Homo sapiens: one gene and its partners. Each later gene encodes a partner of the first gene's protein in a complex. Each region holds a gene or a part of one and is shown on either strand. Other genes may lie near its edges. The genes, in order: NEDD4L, SMAD7, SMAD3 and AMOT. A codon is read from its position in the direction of its gene.

Region 1 (6,238 bases):
CAAGTTCGGATGCGGGAACCTGGTCCCAGCTTGAGTTCCTGCCTTTCCCACCACAAATTATCAACTGGTTGATGTGTACACTAATTACATTTCAGGAGGACTTAATGCTATTTATGTTGTGCCTCTGCAGGCAAAGCCCTTAATAAATATTTTACATCCTTTCTAATGACAATGAATGGAATTAATCACTCAACAGGTATAGTATTACGACTCATGTTTACTTTTTAAAATGATTTAGACCGATTTTCAGATTTTATTTCGTTATGATTAAAGATGTCTCATGTACTTGGAAAAGTGAGCATTTTTTTTTTTTTTGTATTTCACTTTCATACCAGGCTTAATGTCAATGACATTTTTATTTTTGAAGTACTCTGACACCTCCACCCTCTACTTTATTAGAATTGGAAGGCAAATTTTTGTCCAAAAACCTACAGACAAGTACTTTGAGAGAATTTCCAATATAATATTAGACATAATGATAATTTTTTCCATACTCAGAATGAAAAACTGGATATTACGTTTTTGTTTTGGGGTTTTTTTGTACAAATTTAGCTAATAGCTACAGGCTGAGAGAATTGTAACATAGCATGACAAATTTTGTGTTGACTTGAAAGGAATCACACCATTATTCCTTAGAAGTAATTACATGTGTTCTAACACATTTGAGACAGGGTTGGACTCCCATTTCTCATCCGAGAAATTACTTAACCCTTCCTGGCGCTGTACAGTCATCTTTTATTCTATTTCCTCTTTGCTGTTTGTAGTAGAGACATTTTGAATGAAACTTGGCACTGCTTGATTCAAAACTGTGGAAACCAGATCTGTTTAGTCTCCTGTTTGTATGCGTTTGCTAATGGTAGCTAAATAACCAGTTTTTGTTGTAAATGCACCAATTCTGAAGGCACTTTATGTACTACATGGAGGTCATATCTGGTTTTGTTTTTATTTTTTTATCATGAACATTAAATGTGATGATGATTTCTTTTCCCTGCACACATCTTTCCGGTGCAATATCTATCAATTGTGAATCTGGCTGCTGGTGTATAAAAACCTGGATGTAAAGCTGAGCCTACAGACCTGTCCTCACCAACTGTTTTGTGATTTCTACTCAACTACAAAGATTTATTTAATGTACTCTTAATCTAACTGAGTTTTGTTACCAATGACCTGTTGCATGCTTCAATACCGTGTACTGCCTGAGTTGTGCCTCTTGTGTGCTAGATTAAAAGTGAGACAGAGACTTGACTTGATCCTCTGAGCTCAAGCTATTGAGCTGGTAGTGGCAGAGGACTGAGGGTACCTGCACAGTTTGATTCTTTTCCACGTGTAAGTCTCCATTGCAGAATTGTCGTGCTTTGAGAAAACACCTGAGGCAGTGTGGGAGTTGAACGACCCTGCTGTCCTTTTTAACCTGTGTTGTCCTAGACCCTGTCGGGGCAGTCAGGGGACACTAGAGATTTGATCTCATGCGAGTCATCAATAGGACAAAAAAGTTGTGGTTTGGGGAGGTCTGTTTGTTACATAAAAAGGACCTTTCGGTGTAAGAAATTGCCGTTTTTACCCTGCCCTGGCTGGCATGTGAGAAGCCATGGAAGGTTGTGGTTGTAAATGAGTTGTCTAAAGGGGTGCAGAGGCCTGAGGTTTCTAAAAGAAGGTAGATTTCTACAGAGCTGAGTGTTGGTTCCTTTTTCTTATTGGTTGAAAATTACCTGGTAGTGATCAGAAAACTTAGATGCTATGTAACTAAAAAAAAAAAAAAAAAAAAAAAAAAAAAAAAAAAAATTCCCGCTCATGAGTTTTGACTATTGGTGAGATGTTTTCCGCTACAGTTAACATGACAAATGTCTCAGTGGCAAAAATCCCCTTTTTGTAAGCCCCCATAGTCTAGAGGCAGTTTTCTTTTTAAGAATCATGCCAGAGCCTGAGTCGAGCAGTATGCTTTCTTGGTTTTTGAGAGTAATTGTGTAATTGTAGAGGGAGAAATCCAATTCTAACCTAAGAACTGGGATTCTTCTGTCATCTTGTAAACCGTATATTGAAAAAAACAGAATGTCACTAAATGCATATTAAGTCAAGTATTGGAAAGTATAAAAGAAAAATCATTCTGACAATTTCTAAGCCAGAAGCAAACAAGAATTACTGAAATCTACCCCATGAATACTTGGAAGGCAGTAATTGTGAGTGACACCTCAGTTCATCAACCCCTTAATAATATCAGCTTAATTTTAATGACAACTAAATATGCTGAAGTGAGGATTTAGTATTTTTTAAAAAAGCAAAACAAGGTTCAGTAGTCCTCAGCAATTCTCCAAGTTTCTCTCTTTGCCTAAAATGGTCATAGATCTTGATTTCTCTGAATCGTGATGACCACACCCAGTCATCTTCACAGCATAATTGCAGGTGGCAGTAAAGAGAGTGTGCTGGGTAAGGAGCAGTTGCTGGGTCATTCCTTGGGCCCCGACCTGCCCGGGGAGTAGCCCTGGGGGAGAGAGGGCAGTGTTGCCTATCCCAGAGGTCCCAGCAGTCACACTGCTCTGCAGGCCGGGCTCTCTTTATAGCCAGAGAAATCACCTTAATGCAGTCTCTTTAGTTGTCTGCTGAAGCTGTAGTTATTATGGGCCACTTACATGAGGCTGAGAAGTACGTGCCGGAGCTCACACACTGCCTGTTGCGGTTCTCTTAACATCAGTTATCACAGCTGCCTGTGGGTCCCGGGTATTTCCATTCCTGCCCCTTGTTGGCCCGAGGAAGGATGTGGAAAGAGCACCTGGTGGGATGAAGGTCCAACAGCCTGTGCCTCTCCACTGCTGGCCCTGGAGCCGGCAGCAGTGAGGCATTCATTGTCTGTGTTGCGGTGTATTCCCAGCTTCAGTGCTCTTTTCCTTTTTGCCTGAAATGTTTATGCTTCTCTGCAGCCAGTCCTCTAACAAATCTCAAGAACAAAGGTAAGACACTTGGTTTTTGTTTCCAGGACCCTTCAGAAGGTGACATCAGATATTCCCTAAATTCAGACAATGAGGGATACAGAGCGACTTGGCATGTATTATTTCTCCCATGTAAGGACAAAGGGACAGATTATTATTGTTATTTCTGAGACAGAGTCTTGCTCTGTAGCTCAGGCTGGAGTGCAGTGGCTCAATCTCAGCTCACCACAACCTCTGCCTCCTGGCTTCAAGCGATTCTTCTGCCTCAGCCTCCCCGAATAGTTGGGATTACAGGCACCCACCACCACGCCTGGCTAATTTTTGTATTTTTAGTAGAGATGGTTTCACCATGCTGGCCAGGCTGGTCTTGAACTCCTGACCTCAGGTGATCCTCCCGCCTCAGCCTTCCAAAGTGCTGGGATTACAAGCATGAGCCACCGCACCCGGCCTCACAGTGACAGATTCTGAGAAACAGCATGCAAAACATTTGAACCATTTTCTACATCTCCCATTGTTGCATAGAGAGTGTGCACCGCTGCTATCTTGCCAGATCCACACTGGTCCTCCCGAAAGCCAGGTTCATACACAGCAACTTTTTAATTATTCTAACAGTTACCCATTAACAGTCGACTCCTGTATTTCTGAGAGTCTTGTACTCACCTCTGAAATTTAAAAACGTATAAAGAGAGCCTGGGTTAATCAGTTCTGCAGCCCCTACGTGACACTGTGCTAGTTCTCCTTCTTCTGTCTCCTCCTTACCCTGGCCCTGCACCCCTGTACTTAAGAGGGAGAGGTGGGAGGTGCTGTCTGGTATCATTTGCTGCCTCGCCAGTAGAGGGTGCCGCTGTGCAGGGTAACTGCCCGCCTGCTCCCTTCCTGACCTCCCCTGACCCCGAAGATCACTACCTCTGTCATTCAGGCATTGGGGTACATCCTGATAAGTCGTGTCAGAACTGCCAATTTCAGGACTGAGATGTGTTTTTAAAAAACAAATCCTTATAAACTCCACTTTGTACTTTAGATTTTAAAACTGGGGAAAAATGTGATATTCTTTGGACCACTTTTTTAATTTATATAAGCCTTAATGAACAGTGTCTATACATTTGCATACACACACCCCCACCCCAGAGTGTTCTCAGTATGTCAGAGAAAGTGCCACAGCATTAGGACGGGAGCTTGGAGAACGTTTTCTAGAAAAGGGTTAGCTTCCTGTTGGCATGAAATTTTCCAAGCAAACCTCATTAAACATCTGTTGTTTGTTAAAGATGTTCCACTGAAAGCAACGCATGTTTCAAAGGCACGTCTTTCCGTTCGTTGGTTTTCTGTGTGTAAGGAGTAGCATTGCTGTTGGCGCCTAACCTCGCGTGCACTGCATTCTCAACCCCGTACCAGTGCATCATCAGAAGCCTTCCTCGTGACCATAACTCTGTGTCTGCAGATATGTGTTCCCGTGTAAGCCAGTTTTCCCCTTTTACTCAGACTGATTTCACCTAGATTGTCACGGTTTCCTTCATGTTAACTTTGCGTGACTTTGTTCTTCCTTTACTACTCTGTATGTAATATATATACATATATACGTACATATGCTGTCCAAATATATTTGTATATATTTGTATAGCATTTTTACACCTTTATTGAGTAATCTGGTTTCGAAAGGAGGTGAGAGTTTAGTCCCTTCTGCAGTTTTCTCCAAGCTGTGTCCTGTGAATTTCAACCCTTGGAGCCTAAGAAAACCCTAGGAAGATGATGTTAATTTGCTGTCATTTCCTAATTCAGGATCTATCATCAAATGAAACATGAAAAAAACAGTGACTTTTAAGGTGAAAAGAGTTTCAAGCATTCCAAATAAATTATCAATGTTTCATAACTTTTTATTATAAACCCACCTCCTAATAGGAAGCCAAGTACTATTTGATACAGTGGTAAAAACCAAACTACCTTGAATTTTTTTAAGGCAACTTATGAATAATGCTCATTTTCACAGTCAGAATAGCTTTAAAATATGGTTGAATTTGATACACACAGGAAGTTTTCTTGAAGAACAATCCTTTCGCTTTTCTTTTTTCTTGAGAGATCTAAAGAGAAACTGTAGATTGTTTTCCTGACAGCAAAAGACTAATGTGACAAAATGAAGTCATTGTAAAGAAGCGATGCAACTTGTCAAATATTTAATAAAGAATTATGGAAGCTGGAACATTTTCTACATCAAGTGTTATGGGTTGTTTGATTTAAAGCTTCTTTGTGAATGCACCATCTTAATTGTTGTCAGAGGGGTTTAAATGCCTGCAGATTTATAGTATGTTCATTTCCTTCATCTCCCTAAAAGCGCCGCACTTTTAAAAACATTAAAGTCTGGCAGGGCACAGTGGCTCACGCCTGTAATCCCAGCACTTTGGGAGGCTGAGGTGGGCAGATCACTGAGGTTAGGCATTCAAGACCAGCCTGACCAACATGGTGAAACCCCATCTCTACTAAAAATACAAAAAATATATATATATATTAGCCAGACGTGGTGGCGCATGCCTGTAATGCCAGCTACTCAGGAGGCTGAGGCAGGAGAATCGCTTGAACCCGGGAGGCAGAGGTTTCAGTGAGCTGAGATTGTGCCATTGCATGCACTCCAGCCTGGGTGACAGAGCGAGATTCCGTTTCAAAAAAAAAAAAAAAGTCTGCCCAAAACACATGGCTTAAGCCTACTAAAAGGATGCACATTTATTCTTATCCGTCTGCTGTTTTGTTCTTTTATTAAACTTGAGAATTACTGATTTTACGTAACATTTGTATAATCCATGTTAGTCTGTTCCTCAAAAGGCATCCTTGTATACCTAGCCCTCAACTTGTGTGAGAGTTAATAAGACTCAATAATGAATCCCCAAGTTGCTTCTCAGAAAGGTGCTGTCAGAATCCCGACCGTGTGTCACTGCCCTGTGCAAAGCCGGTGGCATTTTTCCTCATGCCATTTCATTCCGCTCAGATCATCTCAGACTCCTGGAGAATTTTCCCTTTTTCTTTAGTACTGAGCTTCCTCTTGATGTGCTTAACCCATCCCCTCGGGGCAGAGGAGATAGCTAGCGGGGAAGCAGGACATCATTTAGTCTTTGGTTTCTTGCGGCTTGTCTTTTTCCATTAACAGTAGATGGCATCTTGCCAGAAAGCTGTCCGCAGCACTTGGAATTCCTGCCGCCTCCTCCAGGGTTATGAGTACACATGAGAGGCACAATTGGACAGAGTCACTGTGAATATTTATATGTTCTTTCTTAAAACCACACATGGTGGAACGAATTACATCAATGACACAGTTGCTAGATTAATAC
Region 2 (8,430 bases), 9.4 Mb from region 1:
ATGGCGAATACTGAGAAAACCCCGGGAGAGGACTGACTTGCAGGTGACTGGAGCAGGAGGAACCTACCCCCCCCCCCCTTTTACTGGCTGTTGCCTATACTTCTGAAAAGTTCTAGTGTCTACTCCAGACCAAAGTCTTCTTTGCACCTTTTTAAACCGTCTTCCCATCTATCGAATCACCCTTTCCATTATTCCCACTGATGCTCCTGGCACTCACTAAGTCTCCGAGTTATCCCCATCAACCAGTCCTATTTGGTTCCCAAGACACTTCTCTCTGGACTAAAGCTTCCACGTGTTAAAGCTGAGCCCACCGGCTACACAGCACAAATACATGAAAAAGGAACAAAATGTAAAGCATATCAAGGGAACGTCTTTGCAAAAACAGCAAAAAACCCAGCCACAACAGAAAAATTCACCAAACTTCCAACAGAGGAAACCTAGAACCAACGTGAAGCCCAGCACCTCCCCAAGCCTTTGCCTACACACAAAAAGCCACGTTCTAGAGGCTCTATTTCTAACTTAAGATAAGCAGGATATTTTAAAAATCATCTACTCACCAGTTGGTTTGAGAAAATCCATCGGGTATCTGGAGTAAGGAGGGGGGGGAGACTCTGAAATTAAAAAAGCAAGAGAAAATAAAGGCCCAGCCATGAGAAGAGAGATAGAAACTTATGATAACAGAGGCATTCTTTTAGCCCAACTGTTTGTCTTAGCTGTGGGGGTTGGAGGCAGGGCCGCGAGGCGGTGATTGCCTTGATATTTAGCTGTCAGATAAACAAAAGAGGCCGCCTGGCGCCAGCCTCGGCGCTCCGCTCCTCCACGTCTGCGGCCGCAGCCGCCGCGCTCGGCTGGCCCGGCTGGAAACCACCGGCTCGGCCGGAGCCGCGCACTTCACAGTTCACAGGGCGGGGGGCGACCATGCCCCCTCCCCGTCCTCGGACTCCAGACCCAGCTCCCAGCAACCTCGGCTCCCCGCCCCGGCCCGCCCCCCAGGCGTGCAATTCACCTCTGCCCCCGCCGGTCCGCTCGGCACTCGCGCGGGGGACACGGGGCTGCCCATTCCTAGCGCACTCGGGAGATGCATCCCAAGCGTGCTGGGGAACGTGGGGGATCTGCGGGCGCCCGGGGTGAACCCTCACATCACACTCTGTGTACAGAGACGTAGAGTAAAGGAAGGAATGGAGAAAGCTGAGAGGATAAAAGGAAAGGAGTTTCAGGGTCTCAGCCGAGAAGCCCAGGCCCCAGCGCAGTAAGAGGCGACAACGTCACTGAGGCGCCGGGGCCCCACTAATCTACAGACTTATCTGTGCGGAAGGAAGGAAAAAGTAGGGGACACCCAACTTCTCCTGCCTGTTTGTTCCTCTGCACCCTGGGGCTGGCAGAGTTGAAAGGAGACAGATACCCAGTTCGGCCTTCCATCCAACTCTCTTTGCCCCAAAACTCCAAAGGTGCGCGGCCACGACAGTATCTGGGCCACTGGTGTTCGACGTGATTCTCCGTATTTACTAAAGGAGTAAATACGGAGACCTTCCAGCCTTTATAGCACGCCTCTCCCAGCCTTCCTTGGCGGGCCTGGACCAAATCCAACTCGGCCACACACCTCAACGTCTTTCCGGGTGCGGGGAGGCGTGACCCCCCCACCTCCCTCTGCACCCCCTTGTTGATCCGGAAATGAAGGCGTCTAATTTTTAACCGCAGACTGCAGGAGCAGTGCCCGTAGACCCCTTCGGGGCAACACAGGAGAAAACCTGGAAGGGAACCCCCAGGGAATGCCCTTTGAGTTTCCCCTTGTCCCTTCTCTACTTTCAGCCCCCAGTCTCTTCCCAGGAGGGTATGCACACTCTCCCAGGAGGGTATGCACACTCTCCCAGGAGGGTATGCACACTCCCCCTGGAGGGATGGCTGCACAAACGCACTGCCCTAGGGGCTTTTCTTCCAGCACTGGCGCTCCGGAAAATGTTGGGGGTAGGGGGACAACTTCTCACCTAGTTCGCAGAGTCGGCTAAGGTGATGGGGGTTGCAGCACACCAGCTCGGGGTTGATCTTCCCGTAAGATTCACAGCAACACAGCCTCTTGACTTCCGAGGAATGCCTGAGATCCGGCCACCTGAACACTTTGCACAGCAGGAGGGGGAGCGAGTAGGACGAGGGCGGCTGCGCAGGCTGCGCGCCGGCGGGCGCCCCCGGGCCCAGCCTGCAGTCCAGGCGGCCGGGCAGCAGGAGGCACGCGGTGCGCGTCCCGCCGCGGGACTCCACGGCCTGGAGCAGCAGCTCCAGCTGCCGCTCCTTCAGTTTCTTGAGCACCGAGTGCGTGAGCGCCTTCAGATCCGCCTCGGCGCCCCCGGCCGCGCCGGCGCCCGCGGCTGGCGGGTGGGGATGGTGGTGACCTTTGGCACCTCGCACCGCCTTGCCCAGGCAGCATCCAGCCCTGCCCGGGCCGCCGCCACCGGCCCCATGCGCTCGGCTGTCCGTCGCCCCTTCTCCCCGCAGCTCGCCTCCTCCTCCACCTCCCCCTGCGCCCTCCTCCTCGTCCTCGCCGCCGGGCGCACGGCTCCTCCAGAGACGCCGGACGAGCGCAGATCGTTTGGTCCTGAACATGCGGGGCGAGGAGGCGAGGAGAAAAGTCGTTTGCCTGCTAAGGAGCGAACATGACCTCCGCACACCATGAAGAAGTCGGGCGCCGAGTTGGGGCAGCAGGCGCAGGCGACAGCAGCAGCAGCAGGGGCCCGGGCAGGAGCGGCGGCGGCCCGAGGGGCGCTCCGTGGCATGCGCCAGTCTCCCGGAGGCCGGGGCGCGCGCGGGGGCCCGGGGGCGCCCGCCGGGGATCGGGGGCCTGCGCTCCGGCTGCCCCACCCCGCGCGGCCCGCGCCCTGCGCGGCTCTCCGGCCCCGGCGCGCCCCGGAGGAACCCGGCCGCCGCTTCCCTGGGGACGGCCGAGCCTGCCCCCGTCGGCGCCTCCCCAAAAAGAGGCCCCCCCGCAGTGGCTCCCGAATGTCGGGCTCGCCAGCCTCGGCTTCCTACATGGAAGGTCCGCGGGGGCAAAAAACGAAAGGCGTTCGGCTGGGCTGTTGGAAGAAGGAAAAAGCCTCTTTCCCCCTTGCTAAGCAACTTAATTTGGGGGTGGGGAGAAGCAGGCAATTAAAAAAAAAAAAGCAAGCGATTTATTTTTTTCCTCTATATCCTTAGTAACCGGATCTCCTCGAATTCCGCGCACACGAAGACTCAGGGGAGGGGGCCGAGTGGACTTCACCCCGCATGAGACGTCTGGCAAAATAAGAAGGCTCTCGCAAAACCTAACAACCAAATATGCAAAGCCCCAAATGAAAACCACCACCTCCTCGAACCTCAGAGGTCTGGGGGCGTCCGGCTGGAACTGGGGTTTAAAAAAAGAAAATGTTTACAAAGTATAACAAGATGTTTGATGGGTGGAAAAATGTATCCACGAGTTACATCCCCCCGTTTCCTTGCAAAGCCCCGCTGGTCTTCCTCTCCTTTTCTTCTGCCAAAAAAAAAAAAAAAAATCGTGTATTTTTTTAATCCACAGAAAGCTTTGGCTAGACCGCTTCAATCCTGCGCATCTGGGTGGTTTAGGGGAGTCTCTGGTCTTTCCCCCTGCGCTCCTGGGGGCCCAGGTCCTCGGCGGGGACTTCCTCGAGGCTGGCGCGGGCGCAGGGGCAGAAGATGCTGCGGCGGCGGCTGAGCCCGGCGGGGCTGACAGCGCGGGGGAGGGTGGCGCGGCGGCGGCGGAGGGCCCCAGACGGGTCGCGCGTTCTCGCCCCCCCCGGGCACAAGCTGCTTGCTAGTGCAGGGGCCGCCGATGTCCCTTCCCCTGGCCGCGGCTGGCCGCCGAGGCTCCCCGCATGGGCTGCTCGCCTCGACCCAGCTGCGGCGGCAGGAGGCCCCGGTGTCCTCTCGGCGCCTCCTCCTCCGAGACTCTCCTCGTCGCGCCCGGGAGCCTCCTTGTCCCCGGTCCGCCCTCTCCTGGCGCTCCGGTCCTTCTGCCGCCGCCAGGGGCTCGCCGCGCCGCACTCAGGGGCTCAGGGGCCGGGCGCTCGGCGGCTCGGCGCCGACGGACTGGCTCTGTCTCGGGCAGCTCTCTCCCGCGCGGCGAGCGGACCGAGCACGGCGCCCGGCTGGCTCGGCTGGCGCGGCTCGGGGACAGGATCTTCCGTGCGCCGAGCAGCAAGCGAGTGTGCCCGGGGCTCACCGCCTCCCGCAAGGCCTCCCGCCCCCGCCCCCTTCCCTCCCCCTTCCTCCCCCTTCCCTCCCCCGCCCCCAGCCGCCGCAGCCGCGCCGCCTCCTCCCCGCCCCCCCGCACCCCCCCTCCGGCCCTCTGCTCGGCTGGTTCCACTGCGCAGTGGCGCGCCCGGCTCCGGCCTCGTCACGTGGCCGTCTAGACACCCTGTCGCTTTAAAAAAAAAAAAAAAGCGATTGTGTTTCGCAAACAACAGATCGGGTTTCTAAAAGCTATTTCTCCCCCCAACCCCCCGCCACCGCCACCCCCTCCCGGGTCTGTAGAGGGGGTACCGATGGAGGGGAGAGAGATAGGTGGGGGGCAGAGAAGCTCCCAGAATGGATTGAGCCCCGGCCGGAGCCATGGAGAAATTGGAAAAGCAGGGAGCACCGAGCGGGCTTCGCCGCGAGTTTTGGAGCTGAGCGAGCGGGTCGGTGGCCCGATTTCGACCCGGCTGGGTTTCGCGGTGGCCATCTCGCGCGCGCTCGCCCTAGCGCTTCATTCATTGGTTTTGTTTTAAAGGCCCTGGCGGTGGATCCCTTGGCCGCGCCCGAGGGCAAGGGGAGGAGAGCGCTGTCTCGGTTTAAAAGACATTTATACCGGACTGGACCGAGGCCCTGGGAAGTGTGCGCTGAGGGGAACAGCCGCCGAGGGCGGGGAGGCGGCGTGAATATGACCTCAGCGGCGGCCGCGCGCTCCCTCCCGCCCTCTCAGCTCCGGGCTCCGGTTTCTAGGACTGCCTGGAGAAGTGTGTCTTGTGCACAGCTCTGGAATGCATTTGGCCGGCTGACGAGCTGTGAGGGGCAGCATCCCGGCGGGAGAAGGGGAGCGGGGGTGGGGGCTCGCCTGCGCGCCGCGGGCAGGTTTCCTCCCGGGCCCGGAAGACCTCCGCCACCCGCCACCCTGCCTCCCGGCGCGGGAAGGTTACCCAGCGAGCAGACCTGCCTAGGGCATTCATTTGCATGCAGGCCCTGTTTCTGGGCCTCGTAGCTTTCAAGGTGCTTAGAGTCAGAGAGTTTATTCCTTGACCCCAGGTCCCGAAGAAACATATACCCAAGCTGGCGGGTTACTGCATAGAAACGGGCATGGCATTGCTAGGGCATAAACGCATTTACAGCGTGAAAGCTGATGGCTCCGAGAAACGTAATGATTTAAATACACACACATCAGTATTGATGAGGCCACTAGTTGGCATGGTGATCTAACCTCACTTCATATTCAGTGAAATACGATTTTTTTAAAAAGCCATTGAGAATTGTGAGATCAGGCCAGCAGTGAAACTCGTTGGGGGCTTTAAAGAATCTTTTTTTCTTTCTTTCTTTCTTTTTTTTTTTTTTTTTAGAGTCTCACTCTTCACCCGGGCTAGAGTCCAGTGGCTCGATTTCGGCTCACTGCAGCCTCTGCCTCCCCAGATCAAACGATTCTCCCACCTCAGCCTCCGGAGTAGCTGGGACTACAGGCGCGCGCCACCACATCTGGCTAATTTTTGTATTTTTTGGTAGTGACGCGGTTTAACCATGTTGGCCAGGCTGATGTGGAACTCCTGACCTCAAGTGATCTACCTGCCTCAGCCTCTCAAAGTACTGGGAGTACAGGCGTGAGCCACTGCACCTGGCCTTAAAATAATCTTTAGAAAAGGTGAAATGTGCCCAGGTGCGATGGCTCACGCTTGTAATCCCAGCACTTTGGGAGGCTGAGGCAGGTGGATCACCTGAGGTCAAGAGTTTGAGACCAGCCTGGCCAACATGGTGAAACCCGTCTCTACTAAAAATACAAAAATTAGCCAGGCGGGTGGCGCGCGCCAGTAATCCCAGCTGAGACAGGAGAATTGCTTGAACCCGGGAGACGGAGGTTGCAGTGAGCTGAGATCGCGCCACTGCACTCCATCCTGGGCAACAGAGTGAGACTCTGTCTCAAAAAAAGAAAAGAAAAAAAGAAAAGTAAAGATGAAATGTACATCTTGCCGGCTAAATTATATGTTCTTAAAAGGAAAAGGCAGGAATGAATCTTAGCCGCCTTTAGAGCTCAAGTCCTCTCCCCCTCTAGCAATTAAAAAGATTTCTAACATATTAGTACAATAGTAGATGCTTAATAAATATTTAGAAATCAACACTTAGGGCTTAAGGGGCATTTGGACCCTTCCTCCACCCCACCAAAAGTACCTTTGGTAATATAAATTCAAGAGGAAATCAGCAACATTGCTTACATGATCATTTCCAGGCAAGGAGATCCTAACACTTATTGACTTGGAAGATAGTAGGATGCCAAGCAGTGCAGAACCCTACTGGACGGACAGAAGCTGCCATTCTGAACATTTACTGTGTAAGGCCACATAAGCTGCAGTTGTATAACATCATAATTTTGTTGTAAATTAAAATATGGCTTGTATAAAAGGGCATTGAAACCTTGTGTGTGTATTAAAAAAACATTCTAAGAAGCAACCTGTGAAGACAGCAGCTGAGAAAGCACAGGAGAGAATGGAGAAGGAGTGTAATCCCAGCACTTTGGGAGGCCTATCATGATAGGCAAGGGAAGACGAAAGAGACAGAAGTGGGATTTTTTTTTTTTTTTTTTTTTTTGAGATGGAGCCTTGCTTTGTCACCCAGCCTAGAGGGCAGTGGCATGATCTCAGCTCACTGCAACCTCCGCCTCCTGGGTTCAAGCAATTCTCCTGCCTCAGCCTCCCTAGTAGCTGGAACTACACGTGCACTCCACACCTCGCTAATTTTTTTGTATTTTAGCAGAGACAAGGTTTCACCGTGTTGCCCAGGCTAGTCTCGAACTCCTGAGCTCAGGCGATCCACCCGCCTCAGCCTCCCAAAGTGTGGGATAACAGGCATGAGCCACAGCGCCCGGCCCAGAAATGGGATTTTTAAGGTGTCTGGGAAATGTATCATATTTTCACCTTAGAAAGGCTTAGAAAGAGTACCAGACTAGAGGTCAGAAAACCTGATTCCAGGCTGGGGCGTTGCCGCTCACTGGTTAAGCAACTAGGGCCAACAGCAATCCCCACGTTAGGCGAGCACTTGGCAGAGTTTATAAGATTTTCTGGGCAAGTTTCCGCTCTCTAGGGTCCCATTCCCTCTCTGTTCTGGATCTCCCTAAAAGATCTTCACTTATTGAGAGTGGTCAGACCAGGCTTCATAGCAACAGAAAGGACTTAAATAAGCAGAGAAAGTAGAGGTCATAATTCTAATTCAGTTTCTTGGCTAAATGGAGAATCTGAAGAATCTTTTGGAGATCTGGCCAGTAGTGCTAAGGCTCTGTAATGAGAGGCCGGAGCACACACAGGGCAGGTAGGTTTCATGGGTGTTTCAAGAGTGGAGTCTGACGTCACGGTTTGTCTGGGTGGAACATGCATGTACTTGCAGAGATATGTTCCCGTATAGTGTAATTGTAGGTGTATTAATTCAGGTGTCACCCCTCTCTACACGGCTTTCCTCTTCCATTTTGCTACCCTAGGTAGAAGCTGGGTGCGGTGCTGAGCAAGTAGCTACAATGATTGGTGCTGCTTTATAGCTCCCTGGCATCCCCTGAATCAGTTAACATCCCAGCTTTCCTGATAGCCCCACCCCATCACATTCTTATCCCTCTCCTCTCCAAGAAAGAAGCCAGAAGCCTGGCAGTAGAGGAATTCCCAGCAGGCTGGTGTGCCTAGAAAGGTAGTTTCTTTCTTTCCCTTCCACAGGCACAAAGGAGGCCAACAAACACGCAGTTTCAGACTATTCTGACCCTTAAGAAAAAAGTTTAAGAGTTCACCAAACTATTGTGAATGAGTTTGATTCTAATCATTTGCTGGCAGGGAATATGGAATAAAATAGCTCATTTGCAGTTGTTTATTTCCTGTTGTGGCTTCTATTTTCATCTTTTAGTCGCTTTGGTGATAGTAATCAAACCCTAATCATGGTGCCGCCACAAGTCACAGAGACCAAAATAACTTGCAGCAGAGTTATGACAAACAAGGATGGAATCAGCTAAAGACCTGGCTACTTAATCACCGGCCACTGCCGCCCAGAGGACTGTGGGGCTGCCTCTTGACCGGCTGCTGGCTAGGAATCTAGAGGAGAGAGGAAGTCGAGGGAAGTTGCTCCAAGGCCCATGTTTTCTGAGCAGCCAGGGAAGGCAGTAGAGTGCACAGGAAGTGACCGAAAAAGCAGGTGAATTCTCCACACCTGCCAAGGGGAGAGGCAGGCTTC
Region 3 (7,000 bases), on another chromosome or scaffold:
CTGCCTGCCTGGATAGGACTGAATACAAAAGTAGATTTTTTTTTTCATCTTTTTTTTCAGTTAGGGAAACCCAGTTGCTTGGGTGGATCCAGACAAAATGGATTTTCATCCTTGGATTTTGTGCCCACGCCTCTGGGTCACCTTGTGTCCCTTGGCAACAGCTGCTGCTGTTTTGGTCGTGGGCAGAAAACTAAAGGCCACGTCTTGGGGAGGTGGCTGGTTTGGCCCTGTGCTGGTGATATCAATGTGTCTGCTAAGCCCCATAGATTGCAGTGTTGCTTGTCAAATTGTCTGCTTTCACCACAACTGCCTTTTAGTTTGGAAAGTAGAGAAAGGAAAATGTTTAACTTAGTCATTCCCCCTGTGTGTGGGGGGTTGGTCACTGGGTGCTTAAAAACACTCTGCAAGATCTGGACTCCGGGGTTTAAGGAGCCCTCAGTCTAAGGAGATTAAGCCAAGTGTGTTTTGGCTAATATATAATCATGAGCAGCAACAGCAACATTTGGCAATTAGAGCTGTATACTAGGGACTTCCAGACCACAGGCTTGCTTCTCTGTGACACCAGCTCTGACTTGTTTCAATTATCAGGGGAGCTGGCGTGATACACACTTATCGACATAAAGAAGGTGAAAGAGATTGGTGCCAAGGAAGTGGTAAGAGCTTCATTTAGATACACCAACAAAGGGGCTGTCAGGATACTCTGAGGTCTGGCAGGATTGGCAGAATTTACACAAGTTTTATAACAGCCTCTCATGCCTCACCTGCTTGAGTACCTGAGTAAAGCTGCAGGTATCTTCCTTGCCAGTTTATAAGAATGGAATCAAAGCATTTGCCGCTGAATGAGAGTTGGTGTGTGAGCGTTATATGAGGAATAAGGAGCTCGGCACACTTAAAACTTAGTTTTCTGGTAGACACTGGTAGCTTGTACTTCCACCAGGGAATCCATGCCTTGGCCTCGTTGTTGGGAGCTAGACCAAGCTTAAAGCATTGCTTGTTTGGAAGGGAATTTGGGCTTTCTTGTGTCAGAGCACCCAGTCCAGTGGAAAATTGGAGAATTGAAGCAAACACTAGGTCTGACACACAGCATCTACTCCCTCCCTGTGAATCTGATGTTTTTTTTTTGGAGACAGAGTCTTGCCTTGTTGCCCAGGCTGGAGCGCAGTGGCATGATCTTAGCTCACTGCAACCTCTGCCTCCCGGTTCAAGCGATTCTTGTGCCTCAGCCTCCCGAGTAGCTGGGATTACAGGCGCCCGCCACCACGCCCAGCTAATTTTTGTATTTTTAGTAGAGACGGGGTTTCACCATGTTGGTCAGGCTGGTGTTGAACTCCTGACCTTGTGATCTGCCCGCCTTGGCCTGCCAAAGTGCTGGGATTACAGGCGTGAGCCACCGCGCCTCACCGAATCTGATCTTTTACTGTAGCCTCCTCTTATTATCTCCTTGACTTTTGCCAGGGTACTCTCACTTTGAGAAAGGAAAAAGATCCTAGTCTTTAACATGCCTTTTCCAGATTTCTGGGGATAGACCTATTACTAAGGCTGTAGAGGCCTCCCTTTTCTCTTGGCTGCACTTCAGAGCACCATGCCCGTGTGGCCCATTGGAAGCAAGCCCCCTTCCAGCTGCTAGGGAGGTGGTCCATTATCTCTTTGCTCTTGTTAAGTTTGATTAGGGGAGTTCCACGTAGGGCCTGAGAAGAGGAGGTGCCTGCAGGACAATAGGTAGCTGATGAGGGATCTGACTCAGCTGCAGCTGAACCTAGGCGCCACTTGACGTTCCCTGGGAACATTTAGAACCTTGGAACATGCTGCTTGCACCTGGGAGTGGAATGTTTGCAGACAGCCCCTCTGTTGTTACAGGGCTGGATTTTGTTGATTTATTGATATTTATTGGACCCTCCCATGTCTGAGTCAATTTTTTAGGTACCAGAGGAGGATGCAGAGACACGTTTGAGAAGCTCCCAGCCTGTGAGAAGCTTACACATCAGTAAGGGAAACATGAATAGGGCATTATTTGAGTATCTAACTGCTATCTCTTTCTCATTCCCAGCTACCAGTAGAAATATGAGATCTAGTATGGATGATTTTTGATGGGGGCGGGCGTTGATGTGCCTTTTAAATATTGTAGAATTCACTATGTTAGGAAATAAAATAATGACAGGCATCTGTTTTTTTCTGAAAAAAACACAAAATTCAGGTCCTGTACCTGCCATTTTACCACCTGCAAGGATTTGGGAATCCATTTAAGTTTCACAGCTTTTATATCTGCACCTGTCAAGTCAGGATGAGATAAGTTCTGTGGAAGTGTTTTGTGAACCAGAGAATTTGACAGGTATGTTACGTTTATACTTCATTCTGCATCATTCATTCATTATTGAATTATTCAGTCCTTCGTTGAGAACATACTACAATGACCACAGCAGGGTCCCTGTACTCAAAGAGCTCCCTGTCTAGAGCGGGAGACAGACTTGCCCAAAGGTATGAGGCATGAGCTGCAGCTGAGGAATGTGCTAAGTGCCCAGCAATGTGGAAACACAGTTAATTCTGTGGGAGGAGGTGTAGAGAGGAGGAGAACCCATGAGAGGTGGAAAACTAAGAAGGGGACAAGGGTTATCCAAAGGAAGCTTTTTGGACTGCAGTATGATGTTGGGAACTTTTTGGTACATGGGGATAGTTCCCTATAAGAATGAGGACGTCTTTATCCTCTTTTACTAAACTGAGTGCTGCTATAAATATGTTACCTTGTAACTGGCACTGAACAGCTAGTGACTTGGGTGCTATATTTTACTCCACTGTAAAGCATTTTCTCTTTGAAGTAAAAAGTAAGTTAGTACTGCAAACTGAAATTCAGGTTTCCTTGGTGGGAACAGGGACTTTAGATGTATCAGCTCAGAATATGACAGGGAGTGTTAATAAAAAGTGGACAACTTGGCTGGGCACGGTGGCTCACACCTGTAATCCCAAGCACTTTGGGAGGCCGAGGCAGGCGGATCACGAGGTCAGGAGATCACAACCATTCTGGCTAACACGGTGAAACCCTGTCTCTACTAAAAATACAAAAAAATTAGCCGAGCTTGGTGGCAGGCGCCTGTAGTCCCAGCTACTCGGGAGGCTGAGGCAAGAGAATGGCGTGAACCCAGGAGGCGGAGCTTGCAGTGAGCCGAGATCGCGCCACTGCACTCCAGCCTGGGCGACAGAGCGAGACTCTGTCTCAAAATAAATAAATAAATAAATGAAAAGTGGACAACTTGCAGATGGTTGTTTTGAAATTCAAAGCTTCGGTGTGACCTAGCTTCTCATTTCTCTAGTTAACACTTGCTGAGAATAAATCCTAGACGCCTGAGTTTCTGAATGAACATAGGTGCTTTTAGTGGTATATTTTTTAAAAAGTCTTTGCAAGGGTGAAGTTTTAAATGACAATTTTAATAACAGAAAAATATGAATACAGTCGCATTTAATTCTGATGAGAAATGCAAGAAGTTGATGAAATTGAAAGAATTTGTTTCAAGCTTATCACATCAGGAATCCAACTAAATGAGTTAAAAAATAAATATTGGTTTAATAATGTAAACATGTGATTGCTGTATTATTATAATGGAATAAAATTAACACGATTTAATGAACTGAGCGACCATTAATTTTTACTTGTTAATTTATTAGGAGATTTTAATGCCATTTGATGCACAGTACAGCCATTATTCTGCGTGAGCTCCTTAATGAAATAAATAAGACCAAGCAGGGCTTGCTTCAAATTGGAATCAGCTTTCATTCCTGTTAACCTTATTCTCCCACCTTTATTCACCTCTCCTTCAGCTTCCTGTAATTGCAATTAAGTTCTCTAAGATTGGAATGCAGTTTTCTTAATCAGCAAGTCTCATCAATAGTCCTAATTGACTTTTGCCCTTTTCTCCTTTGCCATATTGACTGATTAAAACAAAAGCAAAACTTAAAGACTCCATTCCCTCCCCCAAATCCCCATCTCATAGTGTTGGTTGGCTGGCAAGAGAACTGCCCAAGAAGGCTGCTCATGATGGCAGCCTGCTGAATGTGCAGGGGGTGGAAGTTCACCAGCCATGTGCAGACGTGAATGGCTGGTGCAGTGTTGGATGGGACTAACTCCTCCCTAAGGAGGGGTATGACCTTCTGTTGGCCTCTGACAAGTCCCTGAGCCATGGAGCCTTCAGTCTTCCCATCTTCAAGCACAATGGTTCCTGGAAACAGTGGGAAGTTGCCATCCTAAGCCCACCCTACAGAAGTTTGGTTTCTAATTTTACTGTGTTCTAAGCTTTAGAACCGAGACAATTCCAAGAGAACTTGTCCAGTTCATTTTTATGCCTTCCTTTAATGCCGTACCAGGTGCTAATTTCTGTGCCAGATAATGCGGACAAAATAGTGAATAAGGCAGATACTGTCCCTGGTGCCTTCTGTAGCTTCTAGTCCACTGGCTGTGAAACACAGGTTCTTTGGAGTTGTAAGAATGCTGTATGTGTTCACTCTTTAGCTAATTTGTAAATACTGTTTTTTTGGTGCCAAACCACATCCCCCAAGCTCTGCAGTTTATTGACTTGACAAGGATCTCTCTCTCTCTTTCTCTTTCTCTCTGTATAACATAATCCTTTGTTTCGACTTAACAGTTTGAGAAATAAACAAATCTATAGCATACTATCCACTGTTGGTTATCTAAGACCCTTCCTATAAACAGCAGCCTGCCACAGTGGCAACTGCTGTAGAATGTTTTGGCAGAGACTCAGTTTAAAATGAAAACACAGTAGAAGCCTATTAATTAAGAAGTTTGGCTAATTCTGGACTAGGCAAAAGTTTGTTTAGCAGGCCTTTTTGCCCCATAAATGCTGTCAAAGAAAAATTAATAAACAAGAGTTTGGGGATTATTTTGGAGGTAGGAGTCAGCAGACCTTGGTAGGTTCTAGACGTGGCTCTGTTTCTGATTAGCTGTGTGACCTGGGACAAGTCACCTTCTTTGGGCCTCGAATGTTCTCAACTGGAAAATAGGCTAGATAAACTCTATTGGAGGGCCTTTCTAACTTGGAATTGGTATTCATACAAGCATTTTATTTTATTTTATTTTATTTTTTGAGATGGAGTTTCGCTCTTGTTGCCCAGGCTAAAGTGCAATGGCGCGGTCTTGCCTCACTGCAACCTCCGCTTCCCAGGTTCAAGTGATTGTCCTGCCTCAGCCTTCTGAGTAGCTGGGATTACAGGCATGTGCCACCACACCCGGCTAATTTTGTATTTTTATCAGAGACCAGTTTCGCCATGTTGGCCAGGCTGGTCTCCAACTCCTGGCCTCAAGTGATCTGCCCGCCTCGGCCTCCCAAAGTGCTGGGATTCCAGGCCTGAGCCACCGCGCCCGGCCACATACAAACATTTTAAAAGCTCCCAGTTGCACGCATCTAGTTGATCAGTGAATGACAGATCTTTCTTAATTATTGATGTTCCAAGACTCTATCAGCCTGGTGTCAATTAATTTACATAAGTAAAAATAATAAAATTGTAATTCAGCCTTTAATTTTGGTGATTTCCCTCCCTCTTCCTTGCCTCTTCCTTACTCTGTGAGTCTAAATCAGTGAAATTTAACTACAAAGGAATATGAAAATAATGCTAGGATGAAGATGTGGAGGCTGTGCCTCTTGAGATGCAGTGAACAGTTTTTCTTCTTTTGTTGCTATTTTTGACTATTCTAAGAACAGGAAGTTTACTTAAACTAATGACCACAGATGCCTAAAAATGGTTAAATGTAAGAGGTAGGCATTATAGAGGATACCTGTGGAAAATGTTTGCTCATATGTCAAAGTTTACCCAGGAAGCTTCCTTTATTTATTTCCAAGCATCTATATAAAGAAAGGCTGCACTTGATTGCGTAAGCATGAGCCTTTTGTTAGGCAGCGTGGATGTTGCAAGTTTAAACCCCAACTAGGAAATGAAAAGTGAGTTTCCTCCTAAATAGTTCTTTTTCAGTATCACATGGCTCTCCCAGCTTACATCTGGCAAGTTTTTCTCTTGAGTGCTTTGCCGGTAGTTTAGGACTCCAGTATTGTATTGTATTGTTTGTTTGTTTCTTTATCTCTGTCTCTCTCTTTTTTTGTTTTTTGAGACGGAGTCTTGCTGTGTCGCCCAGGCTGGAGTGCAGTGGCGTGATCTCAGCTCACTGCAACCTCCGCCTCCCAGGTTCAAGCAGTTCTCCTGCCTCAGCCTCCCATGTAGCTGGGACTACAGGCGCCCGCCACCATGCCCAGCTAATTTTTGTATTTTTAGTAGAGATGGGGTAGGACTCCAGTATTAAGAAACACTGTGTATGGCTTTGCCTTTGAAACCTACAGAGTTATGAATCTGGTCCCTTTTGCTGCTAAGTGTTGCATCACAAACTGCCAAGCCAAGTTGTAACTCTGAGGTGTCACCATTTTTTTTTTCTTTTCAACTGGACATTTGAAAATAGTAATGCTTTTTGGGTGTGTGTTTTTTAAAGGTCTGTTTTTACGCTGTCACTGCTCAAAAATGCCAAAAGGCATTTTTTCCTTAAAAAATCACCTCTGGGCTAAGCCCAAATGTGGAGTAATGAATCCAGAAAGGACTTTTTGAGTAGTTACAAGTGGCTGAAAGCAGGCACTGGTGATGGAAATTGGGTTTTTCCTTTTGCTTCAAATCTTCCTGGTTGTAAACTTTTTCTTACCCTTATTGAAGTCAGACTCAAGGTGGGTCTAATTTCTCCCAGCCCATGGGAAGGCAGAGTGAATTACTGCTTGTTGTGCCAACCCTTTACATTTTGTGTGTGGCTGTTTGTCTCTACCCAGACAGGTTCTTCACATATTACCTGGGGAGCAGGAGAGGGGGAGGACAGGAAGAGCACAGTTGGGCAGAAAGAGCAAAGCCTCTCAAGTCTGATGGGTTTGGGTTTGAGTCTGACAGTTATTAGCTATGTGGTGACCTTGGGTACTTTGCTTCAACTTATTGAGCCCCAGTTTCTGCATCTGTAAAATGAGGATGA
Region 4 (8,825 bases), on another chromosome or scaffold:
ACACTCCTTCCTACTTTTCCTGTACGTTGGACAAAAATATTGCACACAAAGGGAAGATTTTTTAATTAAGACATTTATTAGTTGGCAACATGAAACACTGGAGATTTTATATTAAAAACATTTGACTTCTGGTTTCTCTTGAAAAATCAGAAGCTGTGGTCACATTGGCCTGCATTTCCCTGTAGTGGTGATCAGGCTGCCCCTTTCACATGGGTTCTGCCTTCTTGCAACCCCTATCACTGGCATTGTCTCCTGACACTAAGCCTAAGGGTTATTAGCTTTTGTGTGTGTGCATGTGTGTTTGTGTGTGTGTGTGTGTGTGTGGTAAGAGATACGTAACAAAATTTACCATTTTAACAATTTTTAAGTGTACAATTCAGTGGCTTTAAGTACATTCAAAATATTATACAACTATCACCATTATCTAGTTCCAAACCTTTTCATCATCCCAAACAGAAATTGTACTATTAAACACTAACTTCCCACTCCCTCTTCCTCCAGCCCCTGATCACCACTACTCTACTTTCTATCTCTATGAATTTATCCATTCTAGATCCCTCATGTAAGTGGAATCATACAATATTTGTCCTTTTGTATCTGGCTTATTTCATTTTGTGTAATGTTTTCAAGGTAGACATTTGATTTTTTTAATGGATTTTATTTTGTACAGCACAGATATTGATTTTTATTGTGCAATAAAGGTGTATTTTAAGAAAAAAAAATAAAGGCCAAATAGGACAGGTAGTTTGGGATGTGGAATCTTGACTTCTGAGCTTAAAATGATCCTCCTTTTTTCCATATCGTTATATGGAGGTTTTTAATGTGTAGTATCTAGGCAACCCAGTGTCTTTACACAGGTGTTTTACAGCTAGTGGTTAATTCTCCTGGTCTCCCCCAGAGGGCTTTCTATACTTTATAGTCAGGATATGAAGACACAGGGATGCTGTGGGGATTAGTTAAATGTGTGTGGCACAGTGTGCTGTATAAACTAACTCTCTGGAACTAGTTTTCACTCTCTGCTCTTAACTTCCACAGCTTTTACTGTCAATACCATTCATTTGGCACTTAGCACATGCTTGTTAGTTGTCTTTTTATGTTTATATCCTTGAAGGCAGGAGCTAAGTCTCATGCCTCTTTGTTTTTTCAGTCTTGTCTATAATAGCGGCTCAATCGATGTTTGTTGATGTTGGCCTCCCCCTCCCCCTCTCTTTTAAGTAGTGCAGGCAATGCACAGCTTTAAATCCAAACTCGGTTTAAACAAACTGAAAGGTTTTCAGGGTGAAAACAAAGAAGTCTTGCATGGCAGGATAGAAGGCTTGGAAGACCTGGGTTAAACAGAAGTACCAAAAAGCTGTTTGCCACAGGTTAAGAAATGACTCACACACAGCCTGACTCACCATTAAGTTCAGAGTTCTGCTAACTCTACTCCATCAAAATTTGGAGAAGAGTAATGCCCAAGCAGGGTTTGAGGAGCGGATGTTAAACGAATTAAGTGTTTTAGAGGTTTCCATTGCTCCAATTCCATTGCTCCACAGTATAAGTCGCTGTGGGGAAAGGAAAGCATGTTAGAAAAGTGTTTTGAAGGCAACTTCAAGGCTAGGGGCAGGCATACTACAAATGAGCCACCAGGCCTTTGTTACCAGGATTTTTTTAAATAGCATCTTCCGTAGTAGCAAAAGATGGGAAATAGCCCAAATTTGCTTCCATTTTTTTTAGAGATAGAGTCTTGCTATGTTGACCAGGCTGACCTTGAACTCCTGGCCTCAAGGGATTCTCCTCCCTCAACCTCCCTAGTAGTTGGAACTATAGGCGTGTGCCACCACCGTGTCTGTCTCCCAAATCCCCATTTAATAAGGGGATGAGTAAAGGAATTTTGGCACAGCTATGCAATAGAATATTGAGTTATAATAAAATAAATAAGGTAAACATAGTTATCCTGAGATGGAAGAATATTTCAAATACATTGTTGAGTAAACAAATGCAAGGTGTGCCTTGATTAATGATCCCACTTGTAAGGAACAAAAAGGGAATATGCACTCATGCTTGAATATGCAAATAATCTATTTGGAAGATGACATACAGTCATAAAGAGAATGGGACTATGGGAGCAGAGTGGTGGAGAAGAACTTTTCACTGTAGTCTTTCAGTACCTTTTTGTTTGGTGTTTTTTGGTTTTTTTTTGACGGAGTCTCGCTCTGTCACCCAGGCTGGAGCGCAGTGGCCGATCTCAGCTCACTGCAACCTCCGCCTCCCAGGTTCAAGTAATTATCCTGTCTCAGCCTCCCGAGTAGCTGGAGCTCAGTGGCTGATCTCAGCTCACTGCAACCTCCGCCTCCCAGGTTCAAGTAATTATCCTGTCTCAGCCTCCCGAGTACCTGCTACTACAGGCGCATGCCACCACGTGCAGCTAATTTTTGTATTTTTAGTAGAGAAGGGGTTTCACCATATTGATCAGGCTGGTCTTGAACACCTGATCTCAAGTGATCCACCCGCCTCAGCCTCCCAAAGTGCTGGGATTACAGGTGTGAGCCACCGTGCCCAGCCCAGTACCGTTTTATCTGAATTCTTCCATGTGCATGTTTAACTTTTTTCACTTGGACAGCATTGATTTTAACAAATATCCTTTTGCCTCTGTGATTGGTAGTAGTCCTGCAGCATATACCCGCCCCCCCACATCTAGCTCTCCTGTCCACTCCAAATAACAAGGCTGAAATAACCTTTCCTTGCTTCACAAACCAGGTGTCTCCATATTTTGAACATTCAAAAACTCACTTTCTCCATGAAAAATCACCCAAATAACCTCACTTCATACATAAACAGAATCATAACGAGAATCATTTTGTGCACACTCCTGCTTCTGAATCTTTCCACAGCTCCTAGCAGAGCATGCTGCACACTCCATGACATGCAATAGTCCACTACTTTTCCTGCAGAGTTGGATTCTGAGCCCCTGTTTACTGTGTGATAGTGTTTCCTTTAAGCACACTTCCTCTTGCATGCCTTGATCCATGGCCCCCCAGATGGCTCCCATTAGGCAGGCTTGAATTGGATGTCACTCTTTCATTGGCATGAGCCATTATAATGGCCTTGCGCTGTCAAGGCGTTTACATTTAGGCTTGCTTCCTACTTGAAATGTTTTCTAGGAAATATGGATCTGTAGAGAATGGTGGTTTCCATGGTAAATGTTCCTTCATATTTGTTTTCTTAAGTTCACTTCGGAGATACACAGCATGATTTCCTCTTTCAGTACCAGAACCACAATAGCTTTAAGTTGTCATGAAATTGTAGAACTTTAAAAAAGAAATCTCACCCACCCTGCTTAGAAAAGGGGTAATTTATTATTCTAACTGCAGGGAGTCAACTTCATATCCACCCCCAAAATTGTAGGAAAAGAGTTGACTTTTTAAAATAAAGCCACAAAACCTACACGACCTTGGATGTAAATGCTTAAAACAGATGAGCAAAATATTGATCCTCTAACACATCTAAGACTCTCCATTATGTTTCACACACAAGTAGGAACACATACATGTGTGGAGTGCTTTATAGTTTTCACACACATTTTATTTTCATACCAGTGCCTTTAAGTTAATAGGGCATGTCTTACAGCATTTACTTACAGGTAGAAAAATTAAGGCTGAGAAGTTAAGCCACTTAACAGAAGTCATACAATTAGCTAGTAAGTGCCAGGGCCCCAAATGAATTCTTCCTTTGGTTCCAAATTCCATGTTATTTTGCTACCCTGACACTGTTTCTTTGTGCCTTCGTTTTTCTAGATGTAAAATGGTAGATTTTCCGTGTCCCAGGATGCTGTTCTCAACCCTCTCGTTTTTAACCAATGTCAGCTTTTTTCACAGTCAGCAGAACACCACAATGACACTTCATGTACTTTCCCCCCTCCTGATTTAATAAACTAAGGGGGAAGAAAAGTTACCTATTCGCAGAAAGCTGGACAGTGCCATAAACATAAAGGCGTACCAGAGTCGGCCGACACACTGTTGCACTCTTTTATGAGACTGAGAAATAAAGCGTCTCATCTTTCTCTTGCCAGCAGTAGCTGGGGTAGAACATAGAACTACACAATAGCCTCTTGTTTAGTTTTATTAATTTTGAGGGCGGGTGGGACAAAGGGATCAGACTGGCGACTCCAGGGCCCAATCGCAAGCGTATACTAGGCCAGGCTGGGCCAACCGGTAGCTGCAAAAGAATGGTGGGCGGGACTTACGCTTCAGGGACGCGCTCCGCCCAGGCCGGCGCTCCCAGCCCGCCCAGGGGCGGAGCCTCCGCGGAGCGCCGCCCGCGACCCCTCCTCCCTCGCCCCTCAGCTTCTGCGGCCCGCCAACGGGAGGGGGGCAAGCGCCCGGGGCGGGGGAGCGGAGGAAGAAAGGAGGGTGTCTCGCAGAGCTGTGACCTGGGTGGGGGCCTGCTGGTAATAGGAAGCAAGAGGGGAAGGAAAACGAAGGAGCGCTTCTCCTTCCTGCATTATTTTAAGCAGGCTTTGGTGGAAGCTGCTTTTCAGCATTTCTATTATTTGTTTTTCTTCCTCCCGCAGTGGGGCGGGGAGCTGCACTGGCTCTCCCACGCGTCTATGCCGCGCTGTTGCCGCAGATTATTATTGTAGTCTTTTGCAAAACCCTTTCCTTCTTCCCAGCCAGTCCCCGCGCAGACTCTCACGGCTACGGCAACCGAGTCGTGCCCCTCTAGTGGGAAGGCGAGAGCGAGGGTCCCTTGCTTTCGCCCGAGCTCCCGGACCCCGCGGTTCAATTGTTTGAAACTTCCACGCCCCCCGGCCCCGCCTCTCTTCCGCGCTCCCCTCACTCCTCACTTCCAGGGTCCAGGCAGGCTCCCGCCCTTCTTTCCCCGCCCTCTACTCCGCCTTCCTCCCTCGTCCACCCCTCCCGCCGCCCTGCTCCGGGGCGGTCCTAGCCGCTCACCGCAAGAAGAAAAGCCACCCGTTCGTCCCCCTCCCCTACCTCCCATCCTTTGCCCAGGAGCTGCCTTGGCAGTCACGCCCCTTCCTTCCGAGGAGCTTTCTGGCTGCCTAAACTGGTAGACCCCCTGAATTACTCCTCCATCTCCGCTCTCTTTCGCCTCCTCTTCTCTTAGTTCTCTCCGCCTCCCCCTCAACTACCACCACCTCCAGTCAGTCTCGCCTCCGGCTATCCGCTGCTCCACCCTCTGGCCCGGTATCCTGCCTGTCCGCTGCCACCAAGGAGAGCCCGGACGGAGCAGCGAGGAGGGGAGCAGCCGGGAGTTGGGGCTTCCCCCCTGCCCATCCCTGGCCGCTGGCCCGGGACCGAAGCCACTTGAGCGAGCAGAGAGTCGTCACCTTGTCTTCTTTGCCTTCAGGGGTAGGAGACGCGTGGTTACTTTTCGCGGGGAACTGGGGCAGGAATCCATGGTGGCATGAACTTGGTCGTGCCCTCGGCGTGAGTGAATCGATCTAGGCGCGTGTGGGAATGCCCGTGTGTTCTACTTTCTTTGCAGCTCGCCATGAGTTTTTTTGGATGTGCAGCAAGTTAAATCGGTTAGAGTGTGCGCTGCTTTCCCGTCCTACTTCGGTGAGGAGATGCTAGTGGGTACCACTACTAGATGGTACTTTTACTTCTTTACCTCCTGGGGTTCTTGTGGGTCTCTAGGTAATTAATCACATTGAGGAGCTAAAGACCCGAGGGAAGCTGAAATCTACATTTAGCCCAGCATGCATGTCAGTGCTTATCTCAGATAACTAGATAGGTTTCTGCTAAGTGCTTAGGCTTGGGGTGGGGACTCACACTCCCTGAGGCGGGAGCAGGAGGGGTAGGACCGTGAATTCTTGAAGTTTTAAAGTCTGTGTAATCTAAAACAAGGCTACTCTTTGAGATGTGTGGTGGTGGTGGTAGTGCTTGTGGTGGTAGTGATAGTGGTGGTGAGGAGGGAGTTGCCCCTATCTGCTTTAGAAGATCCAAAGATGTTAGTAAATAGTTTTGGGGGATCTTGAGGGTGTCTTGAGGGTCCAAGCCTGGGCCACTGCACATTGGTGCTTCAACAGTAAGATGGGCTTCATGGGTTTGTGAAAATGAAGAGAAAGAAAAGGGGGAGGGAAAATAACAGTCTTTAATAGACTGTGAGCAGTTCCTGGTAGATTGCCACTAATAATAATATAATAATTTGCATAAAGGGACTAAGTAGAATTAAATGAGCAAGGAAAGAGAAAGTTGGTGAGAAACAGCATTTTCAATCTCTAGTGTATGTTTTAGAACGAACTTTTCAACAACCTGGGATGTTTAGTGCATGAAGTTCTCCTCCCTCCCCGCCATGAAGAGTGGACGTTGGGAGGCAGTTTAAAACTTTTATGAATATAACCCTCTTCTCCCATTCAGAGAAGAAGATAATTAGTCACCATAATCTTCAATGATGAAGGGCTAAGGATATTTAAGTCTCCTTGAGCTAGGCTTTGTGAAAAGTTCTTTCTCAGGCCAGCCTTTGTGAAGCCTTCTCAGTTAGACCTTTCAGCACCCTCATTTAGTAGCTAAGAATAGTTTGAAATGCCATTTTGGATGTGGTATACATTTTCATCCATCTCCCACCTATCTTCAATTGGACAAGTGCGTCAAGCCTGTAAGTGATGGTGTTCAAAGACTTATTACTGAGATGTCCTTAACCCATTGCTTATTTGGGAACACATTATTAACATACATTTTAAAATAACTTTGGTTGATTTTAATGAGTGAAAGGAAAGTAGGAAGGTAGAGAAGGGCGACAATTTTAAAGGCTATCCTGTTTCAGATCAGCTGGGAGGGAAAAGCTGGCCTGACCAAACTACATTTTATAACTGGCCTGGGACATTTTAACAGCCAGGTGGTTGTAGAGTAGTTGCCTCTATTTACAGATGATAACTAAGGTTCCAACTATTCTGTATGGGTTTATCCGGCGTCATTGACAGACACTTTCTGGCACTACATCATACTTCATTTTAAATTACTTCTTTCCTTGGAAAAGTTCGTGGCTTTGTAAAATTGTAAGTGCTTTTTCTACCTTCACAGTCTAGATGTGAAGTAAACCTCTGACCACAATTGTATGTGGAGTCACTTTTACATGAAATTTGTGGATCTGTTTACCTATTTAAAAGATTTTAGAAAGGGAATTTTAATAATTCATAGTCAATGCAGTTTTGGATTTGGAAATTAAAATTTCATTTCTGGTTTATGAAGTTTGATTTATTAGACTAATTCCCAACAAGGACATTTGTAGAGTTGCTTTTTCTTTCTGAGGTTTTGTAAAGACTGCATCAGACTCTAGAATGCTTTAAGAATAGCCTAATCAGAAGGCAGGGGGATGGATACTATGACCTTGAGGTCCCATTGAGTGCCAGAATTCTAAGTGGGTACATCTGCTTCTGTGCCTCTCCCAAGAGCCCTCTCCCAGGGCCTGCGCCTTCTTTAAAAGGGTGTCTTTGTAATTAAGCGGCCCTTCTTCCCCATCCCCCTTTCTTCCTTTGATCCAGCTTTTTAAGGCCTTTTTTTCCATTTGGAGACAAGAGGGGTTTCTCACACTTTCCTGTTCCCCTCTTAACGCTTCTTTTCCTTTACCCCAGAAAAGTCCCCTGAAGTTCTCAGGATGGTTAGAAGTTGTTTTGTTTTGTTTGGGGCGTGGGGGTGGAGTGGGGGAGTTGTTACCAATGAGGAGGAATAGAGGATATATTCCCTCTTGGGAAATGCTTGTGACCAGGTAGCCTCCTCCATGGAGACTGAGCATTTGGAATGCATGAGAACAGTCTATTCTTGGGGACTGTCTGGTAGAAATTGTCCTTTGCACCCATTAAGCCCAGCTTAAACACTGAAAGGGGTGGGGAGAGGTGTGTGTGGTCGTACTGGAGCCTTTTAGGATGGTAAATGGGTAAATGTTTCCAAATCTCCTATTACATCATCTCTTTCTCCCATGGATTCAGTAGGTTTAGTGATCTGCTTGACAAGTTAATTAGCTGGGGACTAAACCAATTTGTTTAGAATTGTGATCCATTGATTTCCTGTCCCCAGGAATTTTTGTTGGTGTTTTACTATGATGTGTTGTCTTTAGTCTTACTTACTTTTCCCTCCTTGCTGCCTTTTGTGGACTTTGGTCCAAATTCTAGGGTTCCACCCCCAAGTCAAAGGTTAGAATTTTGTCCCAGGAACTAAGGGGGTATTAAACAGGCTGGCCATACTGCATTACTCTCCTCCATGGTGGGCTTCTGACCCCTTTTAACCCAGAGAAAGGAGGGAAGTCGCCCCTTCCACACACAACACACACAATCTGAACAAAAAAAAAGAAAAAGAAAAAGAAAGAAAGAAAATAGGAGGTCATTTGCTTTATAAAAGAATCCACAACAGGTTTTCTTTGTAAGTACTAGCTTTCCTAGTTAGTGCCTTTAAACTATGACTTGATATATAAAAATTCACTCTAACTGGGCCTTCTCGGAAGCATATTTATTGCATAAAGGAATACATAAGAATTTGTAATGATTATCGCTTAAATTAAGTGAGGCCATTATTTGGCCTTTGAAATCTTTTTGTTATATGGAATGGAGTTAGTTAATTGTCTAAATCATTCTGGCTTGTAATAATGCTGGCCACGTTAGCTCTGGCCTACAACTGCTTGCAGAAGAAAGCTAGTATTACTTTTTGAAAATAAATCAGACTTTATAGATTTTGAACAATTCTAAGGATGAGACTATCCACCCCATATAGGTAAAATGTTTTATTTCCAGCTACTGTATTTGACTAACCCAGGGATCCAGAAAGTTATTTCTAGTAAATAATGGCGACTGATGCCACTTTAACCTAAGAATCTGCAATAAGATTTCC

The links.
Region 2: the proteins of NEDD4L (region 1) and SMAD7 are in contact, whole or in part, in an NMR structure (PDB 2LTY), measured with the Homo sapiens proteins. Residues at the interface, in NP_001138439.1 of Homo sapiens: Arg394, Asp396, Lys398, Arg400, Tyr402, Val404, Asn405, His406, Arg409, Thr410, Thr411, Thr412, Trp413; in NP_005895.1 of Homo sapiens: Glu203 (codon at 1,992), Glu205 (codon at 1,986), Ser206 (codon at 609), Pro207 (codon at 606), Pro208 (codon at 603), Pro209 (codon at 600), Tyr211 (codon at 594), Ser212 (codon at 591), Arg213 (codon at 588), Tyr214 (codon at 585), Pro215 (codon at 582), Asp217 (codon at 576).
Region 3: the proteins of NEDD4L (region 1) and SMAD3 are in contact, whole or in part, in an NMR structure (PDB 2LB2), measured with the Homo sapiens proteins. Residues at the interface, in NP_001138439.1 of Homo sapiens: Glu392, Glu393, Arg394, Lys398, Gly399, Arg400, Tyr402, Val404, Asn405, His406, Arg409, Thr410, Thr411, Trp413; in NP_005893.1 of Homo sapiens: Glu178, Thr179, Pro180, Pro181, Pro182, Gly183, Tyr184, Leu185, Ser186, Glu187, Asp188.
Region 4: the proteins of NEDD4L (region 1) and AMOT are in contact, whole or in part, in a crystal structure (PDB 7LP3), measured with the Homo sapiens proteins. Residues at the interface, in NP_001138439.1 of Homo sapiens: Lys202, Asp204, Leu206, Arg208, Tyr210, Val212, Asn213, His214, Arg217, Thr218, Thr219, Gln220, Trp221; in NP_001106962.1 of Homo sapiens: His235, Arg236, Gly237, Pro238, Pro239, Pro240, Glu241, Tyr242, Pro243, Phe244, Met247.

Annotation. Positions count from the first base shown.
Region 1 is NC_000018.10:58,396,413-58,402,650, forward strand, and holds the end of NEDD4L (E3 ubiquitin-protein ligase NEDD4-like), read left to right. Parts: 3' UTR 1-5,127; downstream 5,128-6,238. UniProt on the Homo sapiens protein: E3 ubiquitin-protein ligase that mediates the polyubiquitination of lysine and cysteine residues on target proteins and is thereby implicated in the regulation of various signaling pathways including autophagy, innate immunity or DNA repair.
Region 2 is NC_000018.10:48,947,827-48,956,256, forward strand, and holds the start of SMAD7 (mothers against decapentaplegic homolog 7), read right to left. Parts: upstream 3,140-8,430; 5' UTR 2,599-3,139; coding exon 1,986-2,598; intron 1,508-1,985; exon of another isoform or gene 1,403-1,507; intron 612-1,402; coding exon 558-611; intron 1-557. UniProt on the Homo sapiens protein: Antagonist of signaling by TGF-beta (transforming growth factor) type 1 receptor superfamily members; has been shown to inhibit TGF-beta (Transforming growth factor) and activin signaling by associating with their receptors thus preventing SMAD2 access.
Region 3 is NC_000015.10:67,068,602-67,075,601, forward strand, and holds part of SMAD3 (mothers against decapentaplegic homolog 3), read left to right. Parts: intron 1-7,000. UniProt on the Homo sapiens protein: Receptor-regulated SMAD (R-SMAD) that is an intracellular signal transducer and transcriptional modulator activated by TGF-beta (transforming growth factor) and activin type 1 receptor kinases.
Region 4 is NC_000023.11:112,836,978-112,845,802, reverse strand, and holds the start of AMOT (angiomotin), read left to right. Parts: upstream 1-4,971; 5' UTR 4,972-5,351; exon of another isoform or gene 5,352-5,595; intron 5,596-5,852; exon of another isoform or gene 5,853-8,825.